Linked DNA regions of Homo sapiens: region 1 is linked to region 2. The links come from fine-mapping of genetic effects on gene expression. Tissue or cell type: thyroid. Region 2 holds a variant in brackets; the other region holds the start of a gene. All regions are shown on one strand. Distances are from middle to middle.

Region 1 (8,345 bases), 45 kb before region 2:
AATTTTTTGTGATCTTGATTATGATTAGCAACTTAGAACAGACCGTCATGTCTGCCAGTAATAGCTTTAAAATCTAGATTCCTAGGAGGACTTGTTACTTTTAGCAATCTTCTGCCAGAGGAAGCTTCTGTCTCCTGAAAGGCTCAGCTATATATTTGTTTGTTTATTTTTTCCCATTCAAGATATACACATGAAATGACAGAAGAAAATTTCAAAACTTAAGATTCTTCCAGGAAATACAGTGTCAGTGGAATGGATAAGTGGATAAAATTAGCACAGTTCTTTTGGGCTAATTATGTTTTTAGTGAAGGATGACAAATTCTACAGATTTATTTTTGAATAGCCAGTATTATAATAAAGCTACTTTATTGGAATAGCTCATTAAATGATTCTGAGAATCCATTAAGGAAGGCATGTCAGTTTTTATTCTCAATTATGAGGATTGGGTGCAAGACTAAAGAGCATGTTGGAGTTCAACAGGCCACAGTTTGGTCTGGCTACCAGTAGAACTTTGCTTCTATTAAAGTTATGAAAAAGGAAGACTGCTGAAAAACAGGTTGTGAGTTGTTTCTGGAATTCTAGAGTATGAAGTCAGTTCCTTCAAAATTGCATTGTTCTAACTGTTAGCATCTAATGTCAAAGCTTCATCTCAGATAGGCAGTGGGGCAGGGCTCAGATCAAGCCATTCTCCTCTACTCTATCCCTGAAGGAATCTGAGGTAGACACTTCCTAATTAGCAGAAAGTAGACTTGTGCCTGATCTTTGATCTTGTAATTTAGCCAATTAAGTTTACTACATGACACTTAGTAAAGATAATTTGTCTGTTAAGACGTAATTGCAGGACTTTGATTTTTCACATAGGGTTTATTTCCAGCATTTACTAAGTACAACGCAGAAGATGTTTAAGAAAATATTGGAAACACTCAAAAGGTTGAGATGGAAACCTGGTCGCTCAAGATCTAAACAGCTGGTCAAAAGCATCATTGAAAAACATACTTAAAATATTTATTTTTACTTTAAAAATGAAAGAGAAAAGGCTAGAATCCTGGATTTTGCATATGAAATTATAAAGCATTTAAGGGGAAGTCAATTTAAAAAAATAACACAGCCTGAGATAACTAAATATATTCTATTCCTTGAACACCTTTTAAAGTCAATTGTAAAAGTCATGTCTTTTCAGCTTTTTACTCTATTTGTGTTTGTTATAACAGATTCCTGACTCTCAATATCAGATTCATCCTGGAACAGATTTTATATCATGAGATGTAAATTTAAAATGAAAATGTAATGTGTATACATCCTATAGTTGCATTTAGATATGCCAGCTTAAATACTGATAAGTATTTACATAATTTAGTGTAAAAAAACTCACTTTTTTCCAAAATGCCTAAATATTTTTGGTTTTTTTATTTTTGGGGAAAGTGTTTTAGTTTTTATTTTCCTTTGTACATGTAGACAGACTTTCTACAAATGAGGAAGAACCTTCTCTCTTTGTGCTGCTCAAAAACATTAAGTAACCCCATTTAAACCCTAAATAAACTCTAAAACATCAATGAAAAACGTATTTAAAATATTTGTTTTCACTTTAAAAATGAACGAGATGGCTGGGCACAGTGGCTAATGCCTATAATCCCAGCATTTTTGGAGGCCAAGGCGGGCAGATCACGAGATCAAGAGATCGAGAACATCCTGGCCAACATGGTGAACCCCGTCTCTACTAAAAATACAAAAACTAGCCGGCGTGGTGGCGGGTGCCTGTAGTCCCAGCTACTCCGGAGGCTGAGGCAGGAGAATCACTTGAATCCAGGAGGCGGAGGTTGCAGGGAGCTGAGATTGCGCCACTGCACTTCAGCCTGGGTGACCAGAGCAAAACTCCGTCTCAAAAACAAACACACAAACAAACAAAAAAAAAACAAAGAGAAAATCCTGGAATTCTGAACCCAGCTTAGCAGTTGTCTAATTATGTCCTCTATACATTGTATCTGGTATATTTTTAGACATAAACTCATGGCTTCATGAACCCCAATAATAGATCTATAGGAAAAAGTCATTTTGTATTCAACATTTTCCCATGGAAATAAAGAATTCCCACAGGTTAAATAAGAATTTGGCCTTTTGCCCAGAAGAAGGAAATTTTCATGGAAGCTTTTTTAGAATACAGTGAGTTATACAAAGTCACAGTACTTCTGCTTGGTTTACTTTTAATTAAAACAACAGTAATTCAGAGCTATTATTATTTTCAATATTTGTAAGTTGCTCATTTCTTCATTGCAAAAGAAAATGTTTTGAGAATGATCCATTTTATATATCACATTTAGAAATAAATGCACTTCTGAAAGTCTGTGTTGGAAAGCAGAAAAATGAAGTGTCTTGTGTAATCTGCATTAAGAGAATTACTAGATCATAATCTACATAAAAGAATATTTAGGACTATATATTTTGTCATTTAGTCCTCTAATTAAAAACAAGGACACTTTAAATGAACAAGCTTGTTAAGATACCTTGACCTCCCTCCCTCCTTTCCTCCCTTCCTCTGTCTCTAGCTTAAATACAAAAAGTTGTGTATTCAAAAGCAACAGTGTGCAAGTTATTTTGATACTATTCTTTGCTAAGTTTAGAATTGCATTGCAATTCAATTTTATTTTCTGTCCACTTTGTTTTAGTGTTAAGGAATAACCAAATAGAGCATTGAGGATTATAATATTGAGTGCCCAAGAATAGTAATCAAAAATCTGCCAATAAAGATGCTATAAAATTGGATGAGTTCGTAATGTCTTAAGCAAATATTAGGGATTTAGGTACGTATTAGGCAGATATTTGGGGATTCTAAACATGTGTTCCCATGATGGGAGTGTAACACTTGGATAGAAAGGAAGTTACCTAATTGTGATCATTTTGGGGAATATTGAGTGGGCAGGGATGAGGGTGGGAGTGGGTAGAGGTGGGGGTGACTGCAGTATAGTGTACAATTCACTGCAGCCTGCGTGGTCTCCCTCGCTCCTTCACGATTTTCCCTCTTCTTCAAAGTTTGTGTCAGGATGTCTTCCTGGCCATTCAAGTGGAAAGATACATTCCTAACAGCTTGGTTGTGAGGAAAGTAATATTTTTAAAGGTATGATTCAGTTTCAAGATGAAATTTTTGGAGCTCGGGAATGATTTTTAACCCCCACCCTCTCCCCGCCAAATTCAGCAAATGGAAGAAGCAAGGCCCATCCGAGAACTATTCCCAGGCACCAGCTCAAGGCGGAGGGCTCATGGGGAAGCTGAGTGACCTGCTAGGGCCCAAATCCGTTTTTGGCCTTTGCCCTAAAACAGTTCCCCGATGAGAGTTTGGAAGGGGCAGAAAGGAAAGTAACTATCTGGAGCAGGCGAAGAGTAGCAACGCCTCGGGTGCTAAAATCGGAAACCCCACCCCCTACCCCACAACCCTTTCCCAAAGGTAGTAGGCTGAAAGGGGGAATTCCTCGCGGGCGCCGACTCGCTCGCATCTCCTGAGAGGCAAGTTTCTTCGCAAGCGTTAGCCACCTGTGTGAGGCGCTCTGGGTGGGAAAGGTGGCGTGGGAGAAGCGACAGCTCGGCCACACCGCTCGGGAGCTTTCCTTAGTGAGGCCGGCCGTCAAAATACCTCCAGAACTCAGAGCTTTGATGATGCAGAGTCCCCTATGCCTCGTACGTCGCTAGGATCGTAGCTCAACATTCTCCAGGCTGGTCTGCTCTGGAGTCAGCTGAGGCCTCCCGAGTTTGCCCGGGGTCCTCCCTGTCCCCTCCCTCCCACCTCCCCACCCCCGAAGTAGCGCTCCCGCCTCGCTCCACCCGCACACCCCCGGCGCGCCTCGGAGGCTTATCAGGCTCCCCGCACGCCCCGCAAGCTTCCTTGGGCGCCCGGCGCGAGGGACTCTGAGAGCCCAGCCGCTGCCTCGGAGCCCCCATTCACGTCCCCTCCTCCCGCTCCCCCGCCACCGCGCCTCCGACTCTTCTCCCCCGCGCCGCGGCGCCCACCGCGTCTCAGGTTTAATCCCGGGTTGGACCTGCTGGTTTGCTCTCCCCGCTCTGAGCCTCACAGCCAGCCCAGAGAAGTGGAATCTGCACTGAAACTCTGGGTGGCTGGAGCCGGCGGACTGGGCATGCTCAGAAGCCAGGGCTGGCTTTGGTCTCAAGTAGGAAGCTTTGGCACTCGGGAGGCAGCGGCGACTTTGGGGAAAGTTGATCGGAGAGGGGAGGAAGCCTCAAGACGCGGAGCAGCGGCAGGAAGGAGCCCCCGGCAGCCCGGAGGAGCATGGGCACCTTGCGGGATTTACAGTACGCGCTCCAGGAGAAGATCGAGGAGCTGAGGCAGCGGGATGCTCTCATCGACGAGCTGGAGCTGGAGTTGGATCAGAAGGACGAACTGATCCAGAAGCTGCAGAACGAGCTGGACAAGTACCGCTCGGTGATCCGACCAGCCACCCAGCAGGCGCAGAAGCAGAGCGCGAGCACCTTGCAGGGCGAGCCGCGCACCAAGCGGCAGGCGATCTCCGCCGAGCCCACCGCCTTCGACATCCAGGATCTCAGCCATGTGACCCTGCCCTTCTACCCCAAGAGCCCACAGTAAGCAGGGGTGACGCGCCGGGTCCATGTGGCGCCCTGGCGATGGGGAGCTGCGGGTCTCTGTATTGTCTGTCGGCCCCCGCCCCTCCCGCTTGCCATGTCTGTCCTCATCCTCAGAAATGTTTCATTTTAACGGGCACTTCTTGCGGGGCTGTGCACGTTTCTCAGAGCCAGACTCACTGCACATACGTTGCCTTCGTGTCTTTGTCAGATGTCAAGGTATTATTTTTAAATATACATATACATTCGTATAAGCCACCTAGTGTACGTAGAGTTTGAACACGTCCCAGGTGTGTGTCCGACCGTGTGTGTGAGTGTGAGAGAAGAAATAAAAAGCCCCCGTCTCCCAAAAGCCCTGGCAAACCAGCCCAGCTGGAAAATCCTAAATGCAGGCTCATCAGACTTGAAATGAAATGCGTCTGATCACCCATACTTTCTATGCTTTTGTGGCTCTCCCGGATTTCTCTACCTGCTGGCGCTTCACGCTGGTACCCTTCAAACCTGACGTTCTTGTCATCATCAAAGTGTGAAACATAAGCAAATAGGCATAGAAAAAGGAAGAATTTTTGATTTCCTGAATTGGATGACATTTACAATCCATAAATGGAAGACTAGTCTGTTGATTTTGAAGAAATATTTTTTCATAACATATGAGGGAGAAGATTGCTTATTTTACTTAAGAAACGTGCATAATGTTACTAATGGAGCATCTCCATCTCCCAAGAGGTGGTTGCTTGTTTCCAGGGTCAGATACAGATAAGCACACTTATCTTATTTAAAACGTGGACCCATTGTTTGCCTTACTCTTGGCTTCTAATGCAACCACTCTGGCATTGTTCTAGCCTTTTAGGGAACTGTGCAATTCTGATGTTAGTGGGCTTCATAACTTGGATGGGAAAAATTTAATGAAACTTGTTATACAACACTCAACTCAGAGTTCATATGGAGAGTAAAGCGACAGGAACATGAGGTTAACAGAATGTGGGAGAGCACCCAAAAGAACGGCATTTTAAATTAATAGATAATAACGTAATTGATAAAACCAAGGATATTGCTGCTTACTCTACTACTAACGAAATCACATTGGCTGGATGGCACGTGTTACGTAATAATGCAAGGTCCATCGAAACCCTTCACTTCATAAATACAACAAGTTAATATAAGGAGAAAGTAAATATTTGATTATCTCTATTTGTATTTATTGGATGTTTTTTGGGGAGAATCACAGCATGTACCAATTACTACTTTTGAAAACTTAGAGTTATACCTATACATGTTGATTCCCATGGAACATTTGCTGTTCATGCAGGCTTAGTTTAGGGAGGAGTTTGTATTCTGCGAGGGAGTTGGAAAGAGACAATAAGGATAAACATTTCTGAGATTCTGACCTTACCAAATTGCCCTAATAGTTCAGCAGACTTAGATCTGCCTTAGAAACCTGAGTGATCTGAATAAACTTCAACTTTCTCTGGTAAATTAATTTGCAATCCTGACATGCCTGACTGTTTTAGCTAACGAGGTACATGACCATCTCTCCTGGGCCAAGTTTTGCATAATGAAAAAATAACTCAAAGACAGCTCTCTGCATCTTTAAACATTTCATAGGATCTCATTTTTGTATCCGCAGGACTTTTGAGTGACACAGAGCAAACTCTGCTTTTACAAAAAGACCACTTTAATAGGTTTCATAGTGAAGCATGTTGAAGCCAGCTGATAACTCCAGTTACACATTCCATCAGAGATTTACAAGATTCTAGGCAGTAGGGAATGAGCTATACAATGTGATAAGTTTAAAAGCCTCTTTGTACATGACTTGTAGAATATCTAGATTGAAAAACAAACAAACGAAAAAGGTCCAGAGTGGAAAATAAAGCTGGTGTGGCAAATAATTTACAGCATCCCATTATAATAACATTTTATCTATCATTATAATAACATTTTATCTATCAAACAACACTGTGTGTCCTGATACTGATTTCTTACTAATAACTTGTATTTTAAAGGACTCAGCTCTTAAGGTATTGCCATGATGCTTTGGGTGACTCTGAAGTATTTTATTGAGGAAAATGATAGAATGCCTTCCAAGCTTAAATAATTTTGGAAAAACATCTGTTCTTTTTTCACACTTACATAAAGAAAACTAGAAAAAAATTGGCTTGAGTAGTAGAAAGTGTACCTTTCTTAGGGAAAAAAGAAGTACATTGTATGCAAAATGAATAAATCTTATGTTGTTTGAATGGTTGTACAAGGTAGCTCCACAAAGAGTTAAGAAAACCTGCCAAACCAAAGAAGACTTGTTTGCCTTTCAATGTATTTCACTATGAATAATTTGATTACACGGACTTACTGGCAACAAGTGTTTGTGTCTTTGTATTTCATCTTTACTACATCTTAAATGTAGCCATCTTTCTTAAACATACATATAGATTATTGTGAGTTTCCAGTTAAAATGAAACTATCTAAATAGACACATTAATTTCCAGTTTACGTTCATGCTAGTTTTTGATTCTCTTTTTTTTAGATGTAGGTAACTGCCCCGCTAATGTTCTGTTCATTTATCTGATATATGCAAATATATCTGTTTAGTTTTTACTTACTAAGGTTGCCTTCTGAGGATTATAATTTTTTTTAGTTCTGGTTTCTTGGTAAATTTGGTCATTTAAAAATAGTATAAAATGTAAATTAACTTAATAACTTGAATCATTTTAACATTTTTGGCTTGGAATTTTTCCTTTAATGTGGGAATTGGAGGGAAGGTTCTGTCAGATTCCAGCACTGAGCCAGGACACTCCTGCTATAACTATGAGGTAGGAGGAGGGTTTTTATTGGTCTCTTTCACAATCTGTATAGATACAATACTTATGTGAAGGAAAGAACTGATGTAGCAAATTGGAATCTGTATTCCACTGCTACCAAATAACTCCTTGAGAATGTAAAACTACTAAACTATATTTGGAAATAAACTGAGCAAATAAACCCTTAAAATGAAAAACAAAACCTAAGCATTCATTATGTGAGATCAGATAGCCTGTTGATTGCCTATATAGAATAGTTCTTATGGACTTAAGTAATTTTATTTCATGAAGTTTCATTCCTGAAATTGATTCTATATCATGTTAGAACATTCAGTCTCTGAAATTTTGATCTAAACCCCTTATCTTTTGAAAATATTCCCAAATCTTTTCCATTTTCATGTCACAGGGTTTCAGTCATTTCAGTTGGATTATATAGACTTGAGTTCCTAAAAGTGGTTAGTGTCTTTGTATTTTTGTAAGCTGTTGCTTTCACTCCATGTTCTATTTTGTTTCCTTTCTTTTTCCTTTGTTGTTGTTGTTGAGACAGAGTCTCACTCTGTCACCCAGGATGGAGTGCAGTGGCACGATCTTGGCTCACTGTAACCTCCGCCTCCAGGGTTCAAGCAACTCTCCCATCGCAGCCTCCTGAGTGGCTGGGATTACAGGCACGTGCCACCAATGCCTGGCTATTTTTTTTTTTTTTTTTTTTTTTTAGTAGAGATGGGGTTTCGCCATTTTGGCCAGGCTGATCTTGAACTCCTGAACTCAGGTTATCAGCCCACCTGGGCCTCCAAAAGTGCTGAGATTACAGATGTGAGCCACCACACCTGGCCCCTGTTTCACTTTTTCATTGCGAAGTACTTTGGAGGAGTTGAGGATAAAAATATTTATTTATATTTATTTATTTATTTATTTATTTATTTATTTATTTATTTATTGAGACGGAGTCTCGCTCTATCGCCC
Region 2 (8,345 bases):
GCTGAGATTGTGCCAATGCACTCCAGCCTGGATGACAGAGTGAGACTCCATCTCGAAAAAAAAAAAAAAGGAATGATAAAGAAGTAGTACCAAAATTCCTTTTTAAGAATTGTCATAGTGCAAACATAGAGAAGAAATCAGGGGCAAAGGGTAGCAATGGAAAGTCAAGACAATGTTGTTCTTGTAGAGGAGACCGAGTACATGTATAGGCTGGGCGAAGGAGAGAGCTTCACTGTAGGGAGGCAGTTCTGGTGTGGTGGTGGAAAAGTACTGGGCTTTCACTCAACAGATTTGGAGTTTTTTCTCAACTCTGCCAGTCGGTAACTAATTGAGAAAGGTGAGTAATTTGCTTAATTTACTTGAGGCTCAAATTAAATAACAAATGTGAGGTCAGTTTGTGAATGGTAAAATGCTGCATCAATAATGTGGCATTATCCACGGTAGACTGGCGGAACATATAAGCACTCTGCCCCTCTGAATTATTTCAACCATGCATTTCCTGCCTCTTGAAGAAGAGAAACAAAACAGAGGGCACTGAAATGATTTGCACCTCACTCAAAATGAGTAGAATGTAATTATAATCCCTTCGAAGAACTAGAACTCTTCAGTCCCTGAAGACACGGCTTATTGGGCTTCTGTATGAAATGAAGGACATGGACTAATCCTGGAAGGACATTCCAGTAAATTTGGGATGAACAGTATTCATGTATCATGGGGATTAAAGCCATTTGAAATCAACATGCAAGGAGGTGAATGTTAATATGATGCAAACAGAATACAGAAAAGCTGAAGTTGAGGAAGTGAACAGTAAAAGGTGTCTGCAGGAATTCTTACAGGAATTGAATTCTGAGCTAGATTTGGAGGAGGAAAGGCAGGAACTGGTGGGATGATGGTAGGAAGCATTTCCTCTGAAATCCCTGGAGGGGGCTGAGTTCAAGATGTAGTTAATAGACCAGTGGGAGATGATGGGAGAGAGGGTGGAAGGCTGGATCAAGATGGTAAGATCTGATACCATGAGCAATATTGAACAGCGGGGGAATTCCTGAGCAAGAAGATGGCATTGCTATCAGAGGAAGATTGTTCCACCCTTTGGCATCTCTGTGCAGGATGAGTAGAGGTGGGAGCCTGGAGAATCAGATAAGTGGCTGTTGAAGGCATGGGGTAACAGGGTTGTTGGAGGCTGTGGAATCATAAGAGGGAATGGGTAGATCTGAGAGATAATGGAGAAACGTACTTGAAATGTGACATTTTTAGTTAACCTGTACATGACCATTTGTTCTGCTCTCTCTTATTGTGGAGCCAATTTTGAGGAAGTAATATTTCTGTATTGTAATGAACATGGAAATGCTTCATGGGTATTCCCCAATTTCAGTTACCCTGTATCCTAATTATAGAGAACCTGGACTCTTAAACACAGCACAGCATGGTCTTTCACTCTGGTACAAAGCAATCATAGGTCTGCTTTTGCCATGGGTCCCATAATGCTTCTTTGTGCACAGTATGGTGAAATTCTCCTTATTGGGAAAGTCCATAATGGTGTTACATTCTTGTTATATTCTATCAACATTTTAACCAGTTATCTTGCTCCTCATGTGGTAGCACTTGTCAAGCTGTATTTTTTCACAGGCAATAATTGAGGTCTTGGCTGATGAAGCAAATGGCCTAATGAGTAATAATCACATATTTGGAATGTACACGATGAGCCAAGCATGTTGCTACGCACTTCATGGGCATTATTTATGGTGCTTACCACGGTTTGTTGAATGCTTACTATGTCCCTAGTACTGTGTGGGTACTGTGTGTGTTTGATATGGGTAATCTTATGTAATTTCCACAACAATTAGGAAGTGGATAGCATTCTTTCTTCCATTTCATAGATAAAGGAGACAAGACAGAGTTCTAATGGAGGCATTGCTTTACTACAGAAGAAACAATTTTTGATAGCTTTGTAAGAAAGCTATGCTCATATAACATACCTTATTGATTCCTTAAATAAAATACATTATGTAACAGCTCTCAACGGAGTAAAGATGGGATGTGGCTGAGCTTTTAAGTTGTTTTCTTAAACATGATTGCAGTTCTATGTTTAAAAATGAGTCAAGAACATCTGCTTCTTTCTAGGGAGATATTCCATGGCTTCTTAACAACTGCTCTAACTTTTGTGGCAGCTGTCTGAAAGTTAGCTGTCTCTTGAGGCAGTGATGTCTTTATCACTAGGGGGTTTTCACTAAAATCTCAGTGATGACTTGCAGATGTCATAGATGTTGGATGAGGGGAAGGGAAGTTGAATTACATGGCATTGGAGATCCTTCCTAACCCTGAGAGTCTTTGAGGTTCTAAGTTCCATTAAAACTATTTCAGGACACAGTTAAGAGCAGAGCAGCAATCTTTAGGTCAGTGTTTTATGGCATTTGGCCAAAGGCCATTTAAAAGTTGATGGAGCAAAGAGAAGTGGATATAATGGGATTTTGAAAAAAAATAAAAAATAAAACAAAAAATAACTTCCTGTGCAAAAGCAGATTACTTTTAAGGGTAAATTTTAGAAAAGGAATCCTCAGATCAATATAGTGCCATGCCATTTTAATTATAGAAAGTAAATTAATATCTGCTCTTTAAAAAAGACAGTTAAAATGGTTCTAAAAGTAATGTTTGAATTCAGTGAGTTTCTAAATTAGCTTAAATTCTTAAGAAACCATTAAAAATGATAATAACTCTGTTTATTATCATTACAGAAAGCTTTCGTATAGTACTTTTATCTGTGCCAAATACTGTACTAAATGTTTTCCATGAATTTTCTCGATAATTTCTACACTAACACCATGAGATAGGTATTCTTATTAGCATCAGTTTTTCGAATGAGTACTTCAAGTTTCAGGAAAGTAAAGAAACTTCCCTGAAGACAGTATCTCAATTAGAACACAGTTCTGATTCCTACGTCTTCCCTCTGCAACCTACTGTTGTTCTATTCGTCTCTGCAGAATATTCTATTTAATTTACAGTAAATGACTATAGCTGTTGTGCCTATTTATGGTTTAGCTTGCTAAGGAGTTAAAGAATTCTTGCTGGAACAAGCTAGGTTAATTGAAGGGAAAAGCAACAGCATATTGGTTCTGAATGTTAAGCTTCAAATTATTTTGGAACCTGGTCTCTTAGTAACTGATATGTTACTGTTACATTTTAGAAAAAATAAAAAGGAAATCATGAAATCCTAAGCCATATCTTGGACCTGAATATAGGTTGCTTTAGGCAATGAATAGTTGTCCTTAGAATAATTCTTCATTTCTTGCACTACCTCCAAAACGCAATAAATTTACTGTCTTAGTAGTTTGAAAATGTAGGCTTCCGAATGTTCACTTGCTAAATTCATATTATTTGTAACATATAGGCTATGGTGTCCCTATTCAGTTAGTATGGTTCAGTTGCACCAC[A/G]TTATGTCTTAGGTAAAGTAAACTAAATTAAATTTTCAGGGAGCAATGGAAAATAAAAGGAAATGTTCACAGTCTTTGAGTTATTGATCTTTGTGATTTTCACTGCCTTATACTTTTTCCTGAAAATATTAACACATTTTTATAAATCTTAATTATTTGCATAATTAGAGAAATTTTCCTGATTATCTAGAATACATTAAATTTTGAAGAGAAATCTGGAATATCAAAAATACACATTTTAGACTCATGGTACAGATGTGTACAGTTAAATATGCTTCTCAAGAAAAAAGAATCATGCCTTAATCTAGGAAAGATCATATTTTGATAGAGAAATTTTTGGCAAAACAAAAATATATAAAACCACTTTCTACTCTAATTTAATGACCCTGTTCATTTCCTGTTTTGATTTTGGACATAATTCCAACACTAACTCTCTAGAGACTGTTAAAATTCATGGTCTAAAAATATAATGACAATTTTAACTTTACCACAAGACAAATCTTTCCATTTTACAGTATGATCATGTTGATATACTTTAAAATAAAATGACACTTAGAATTAAGTTCAGAGGTTTTGGAATTTTAAAATAAGACTTTGGATTCGTATAAAAAATAATTAATTTTTTAGTCAATGTTCTAGAAAAATTATTATTTATGCTTATCAATGGAGAAGTAAGTCTACTTGAAAACAGAAAACTAATCTCTCCTTAAGTGAGAAGAAACAGTGATCATGAGCTTGGACATGAAAGTTTACAAATGATCACAGGTCCTAAGCTTCAGTGGGTTCTCCATATATCAATGCCAATAAGGCCTTACTTTCAAATTTCCCTTTTGCATTTATAATGTTTGTAAGGCTTATTGAGAATTTTTTTTTAACTTTTAAGAAAAAGTTTGGAGCATTTTATTATTTTTTGAAAGATAGTTGTGGAACAGGGTGGAGGAACTTGCTGTCTAGAATTTAGAAGCTTAGTAAAATCCCATTATAAATAACAAAGTGTGCTCACTGCTTCTAAGATTACAATTTTAATGGAGAAAATTACCTTAAGCTAAATAATGGTTAACTATATGAATATTAGGGAGGGCAAAGTTGTTGAGGTTGTTGATTCCGATTTTTCTGGTATTGCCCAAATCACAACAAACTACAAGGCCCCCTGTGAAGAGGAAAAAGGTGTACAAAGGGATATTTAAGGTCTTGAAGTCAATCTTCACATATATCACTATTTTTTTAGGCCTAGTATACAATTTTCTCTCTCTGTCTTTCCTTCACAACATTTTCAAATTTCTTTCCTTCTACATTTTCTGGCCCCTGTTTTTGAACAAAGCTGAAAAGTTCAGCTCTGTCAAATTCAAGGAATTTCTCAAGCACATGTAGAGGAGTTTGCAATGACCATCCAGAAATGACATCCTAGGTTTTAAGTTTCTATAATGGACTTGGTATACTTGACTTAGTTAAGTAATAGACCAAGTGGAATCTTCATTAAACAGCTATCGTTCTTTTCTGTTAGCATATACACTACACATGTATTAAGTGTCTCTTAGTCATTTTGCCAATTTAATTTAATAAAGCAAAGAGACATTGTATTAATTTCCTATTGTTGCTGTAACAATACCACTAACTTAGTGACTTAAGTGATATTGTTACAGCAACGGTAGGAATAAAAATTCACACATTTTTATTGTATAGTCTTGTAGGTTAGAAGTCTAATGAGGGTCTCACTAGGCTACAATTAAGATGTCAGTGGGGCTGTTGTTCCTTTTTGGAAGCTCTAGCAAAGAATCTGTTCCTTGTCTTTTGCATCTTTTAGAAACTTCCCACATTCTCAGCTCTTGGCCCCATCCCATCTTCAAAGCCAGCAATGCAAGTCTAGGTCCAGTCTTTCTCATATTGCATTACTGAGATCATCTCTCCTGTCTCCCTCACTTACAAGTATCGTGGTGATTAATTGAACCCACTTGGATAACCCAGAGCAATCTTCCGAGCTCAATGTTCATACTCTTCATTACATCTGTAGGCCCCTTTTTCCATATAAGGTAATATATATCCAAATTCTGAGAATCCGAAAGTGGACATCTTTGAGGAGCCACTATTTGCTTTCTGCAGGCATGCAGAGTTTTTGTTTAATAGTAGAAACATGTCTTTGATGGAGGAAATTATTATATTATTTTTTGATACATTTAAGCATAATTTTTGGCTCATGAGTTTTTCTCTCTCTGCATTCTACATTGTTCGGGACACATTCAAACTATCACTAATTAAATAAATACAGGAGGGAAGAACTTCATTACAAATAATAATAGATAACATTCATGAAGTACTGCACTCAGAGATGAGAACTTTTTATGTCATATCTCACTGAATCCTCATAACAACTCTCTGCAGAAGGTACTTTTCCCTAATTTTTATAAATAATTGAAGATTTAAAATTTTAAAGATTTTTTCCAAGGCCACCCAGCTAGTAAGTGACAACCGTAAGAACACAGATAATGTGGCACCAAGATTGGTGTCAAAACTCCTTGAGAATATGCATATCTATTTGAAAATGTCATAATCACCCATCAGTACATCATTCACAATGGGCACCCACTAACTGTTCGTTGGATTCGTGAATGGTCTTGCACAGTAATATATTTCATTAATTTTCTGCATGGTACAGTTAACAAGTGAGATAAATATGGTCCTAATGGCATAGTATTAAGGAACACTGCTACACTTATTGCATTTAATGTTCTCTGTTGTGGTGATTGTTGGCACTTACCTCAAGAGCAGGCCCTTGTCATTGCCAGCCCTCTGCTTCTTGTATTGTACGTACATCTGTCGTACCTTCTGCTGTACCCCTAGCATCATGTCGCTGCTAAACATTTTGGCAGAAACCTTAGGAACATCTGTTGCCTTAGTCCAGGAACAAACTAGCAGCTCTCTATTAAATGAGGATGGCATTTGGCAGTTCAGGCTTTAGCCTTCTTCGGAAGTCCCTTTGGTCTAAAGCAATGGAACTAAATCCTTAGAGCTCTACCATCCCACATGTGTAGCAAAGGGCAAAACCCATATGAAAGGCATATGGTGGAACAAATCACAATAATGCATCATGCCCTTCTCCCAAACAGTAGTGAGACATCCGTCTTACTGGGATGCCACATGGACACAATATCAACACAGCACCAAGAGGCTTTTGTTCAAACACCATTTCTAGTCCTAACTTTTCCAGATAATGGCTAAGTGATGTTAGCCCTGTGTCTTAACCTCTGTGGGAAGAATAAAAACCTAACCCATCTGGGTTGCCTCTTGTGGGTATATACGTGTGATTAAGATTTGGTCTCTGATTACTAAGGAAACTGTAATTTCCCAAGGAAAAACTCATATATAAAAACCCAATTCATGTAAATCAAAATCACAAACTATCAATAGTTATTGCTAGACATATCCTTCTTGGTTTTCTTCTAAGAAAGAAAAAAGCAGCCAGTGACATCCAGCAACTGATCTGATGCTCATAGCTGGAACTCAGGTTATCACAAACTGATTTGACACTGGCAACTACGCCATGTTGTTCTCCCGTTGAGCATCAATAATGTCATAAACCACCTACTTCAGATCGTGTCACTGTGCATACTACAAAATAGACCAGATCTGTCTCTCTCACTAAAACCAGGTATCTTCCTGTCTCAGTAAATGCTCCCTTACTAGGTTCAATTTTAGGCTTCCTATAGCCTGCCCTATCTATACGTTTTATTGAGATATCTAATCATAACATTTCCCCTGCTTTCTGACAACACACAATGTAGGACAAACTTCTGCTTCCTTAGAACCTTCCTCAAAATTATTCAACAAAAGCCCCAATTCTATAATAGGTTCTTCTGACACTGTTGTACTGAGCTACCTCACAGGTGGTTCCCTGTGGTATGCATTCTCCCTCTGCAATGAATAATACACCAAACTTGTTCACTTACATTTTTACCTGATGGGCATTGACACTTCCAAAAACTAGTTCTATCAATGACTGAAGTCAGATGATTGCATAAAAATCCTAACATTTTACAACAGTCTTAATTAACCTCGTTCTTTAAAAATAAATTTTATTACTGTTATCCATATATATGGTTTAAAAAATCAGCCCAAAAAAGGCTTATAATGAAGAACAGAAACTTCTTGCATGCTCCGTATTAGGCCTTTCTTGCGTTGCTATAAATAAATACCTGAGCCCGGGCCTGGTGGCTCACGCCTGTAATCCCAGCACTTTGAGAGGCCGAGGCAAATAGATCACCTGAGGTCAGGAGTTCGAAACCAGCCTGGCCAACATGGTGAAACACCATCTCTACTAAAAATACAAAAATTAGCCAGGCGTGATGGTGGGTTCCTGTAATCCCAGCTACTCGGGTGGCTGAGGCAGGAGAATCACTTCCACCCGGGAGGTGGAGGTTGCGGTGAGCTGAGATCATGCCATGTGCCACTGCACTCTATCCTGGGCAACAGATCGAGACTCCATCTCAAAAAAAAAAAAAAAATTACTGGAGGCTCTGAGACTGGGTAATTTATAGAGAAAAGAAGTTTAAGTGGCCAAGGTTCTGCAGGCTGTACAGAAAACATGGTGGCATATGCTTCTGGGGAGGCCTCAGGAAGCTTACAATCATAGCAGAAGGTGAAGTGGAGGCAGGCACTTCACGTGGTGAAAGCAGGCGCGAGAGAGTGAAGGGAGGGAGGTGTCATGTACTTTTAACGGGCCAGACCTCAGAAAAAATCACTCGCTATTGTGAGGACAGCACCAAGAGAATGGTGCTACAGCATTCATGAGAAATCCACCTCCATGATCCAATCACCTCCTTTCGGGCCCCACCTCCAATACTGGAGATTAGAATTCAACATGAGATTGGATGGGGACAGAGATCCAAACACTATCATGCTCTTTTCATCCGCATTCCTCAG

Direction of the effects. Alleles are on the strand shown, and positions count from the first base shown. SD is a standard deviation of normalised expression in the study named.
With allele G in place of A in region 2, the expression in thyroid of the gene that starts at base 4,173 in region 1 is lower (small effect, 0.17 SD a copy in GTEx).

The links. PIP is the estimated chance that this variant, and not a neighbour inherited with it, causes the effect.
Region 1: it holds the start of PRKG1, and the variant in region 2 is fine-mapped to the expression of PRKG1 in thyroid (GTEx, PIP 0.97).

What each region holds. Positions count from the first base shown.
Region 1 is chr10:51,070,315-51,078,659 of GRCh38, forward strand. PRKG1 (protein kinase cGMP-dependent 1) reads left to right here and starts at 4,173. Exons shown (of 18, transcript NM_006258.4): 1 at 4,173-4,587. The coding sequence starts at 4,277.
Region 2 is chr10:51,115,782-51,124,126 of GRCh38, forward strand. All of the region lies in intron 1 of PRKG1 (protein kinase cGMP-dependent 1), which reads left to right. Among named protein-coding and RNA genes, the nearest start is that of PRKG1, 45 kb to the left of the region's middle. The variant A/G (reference allele first, on the strand shown) is at 3,429.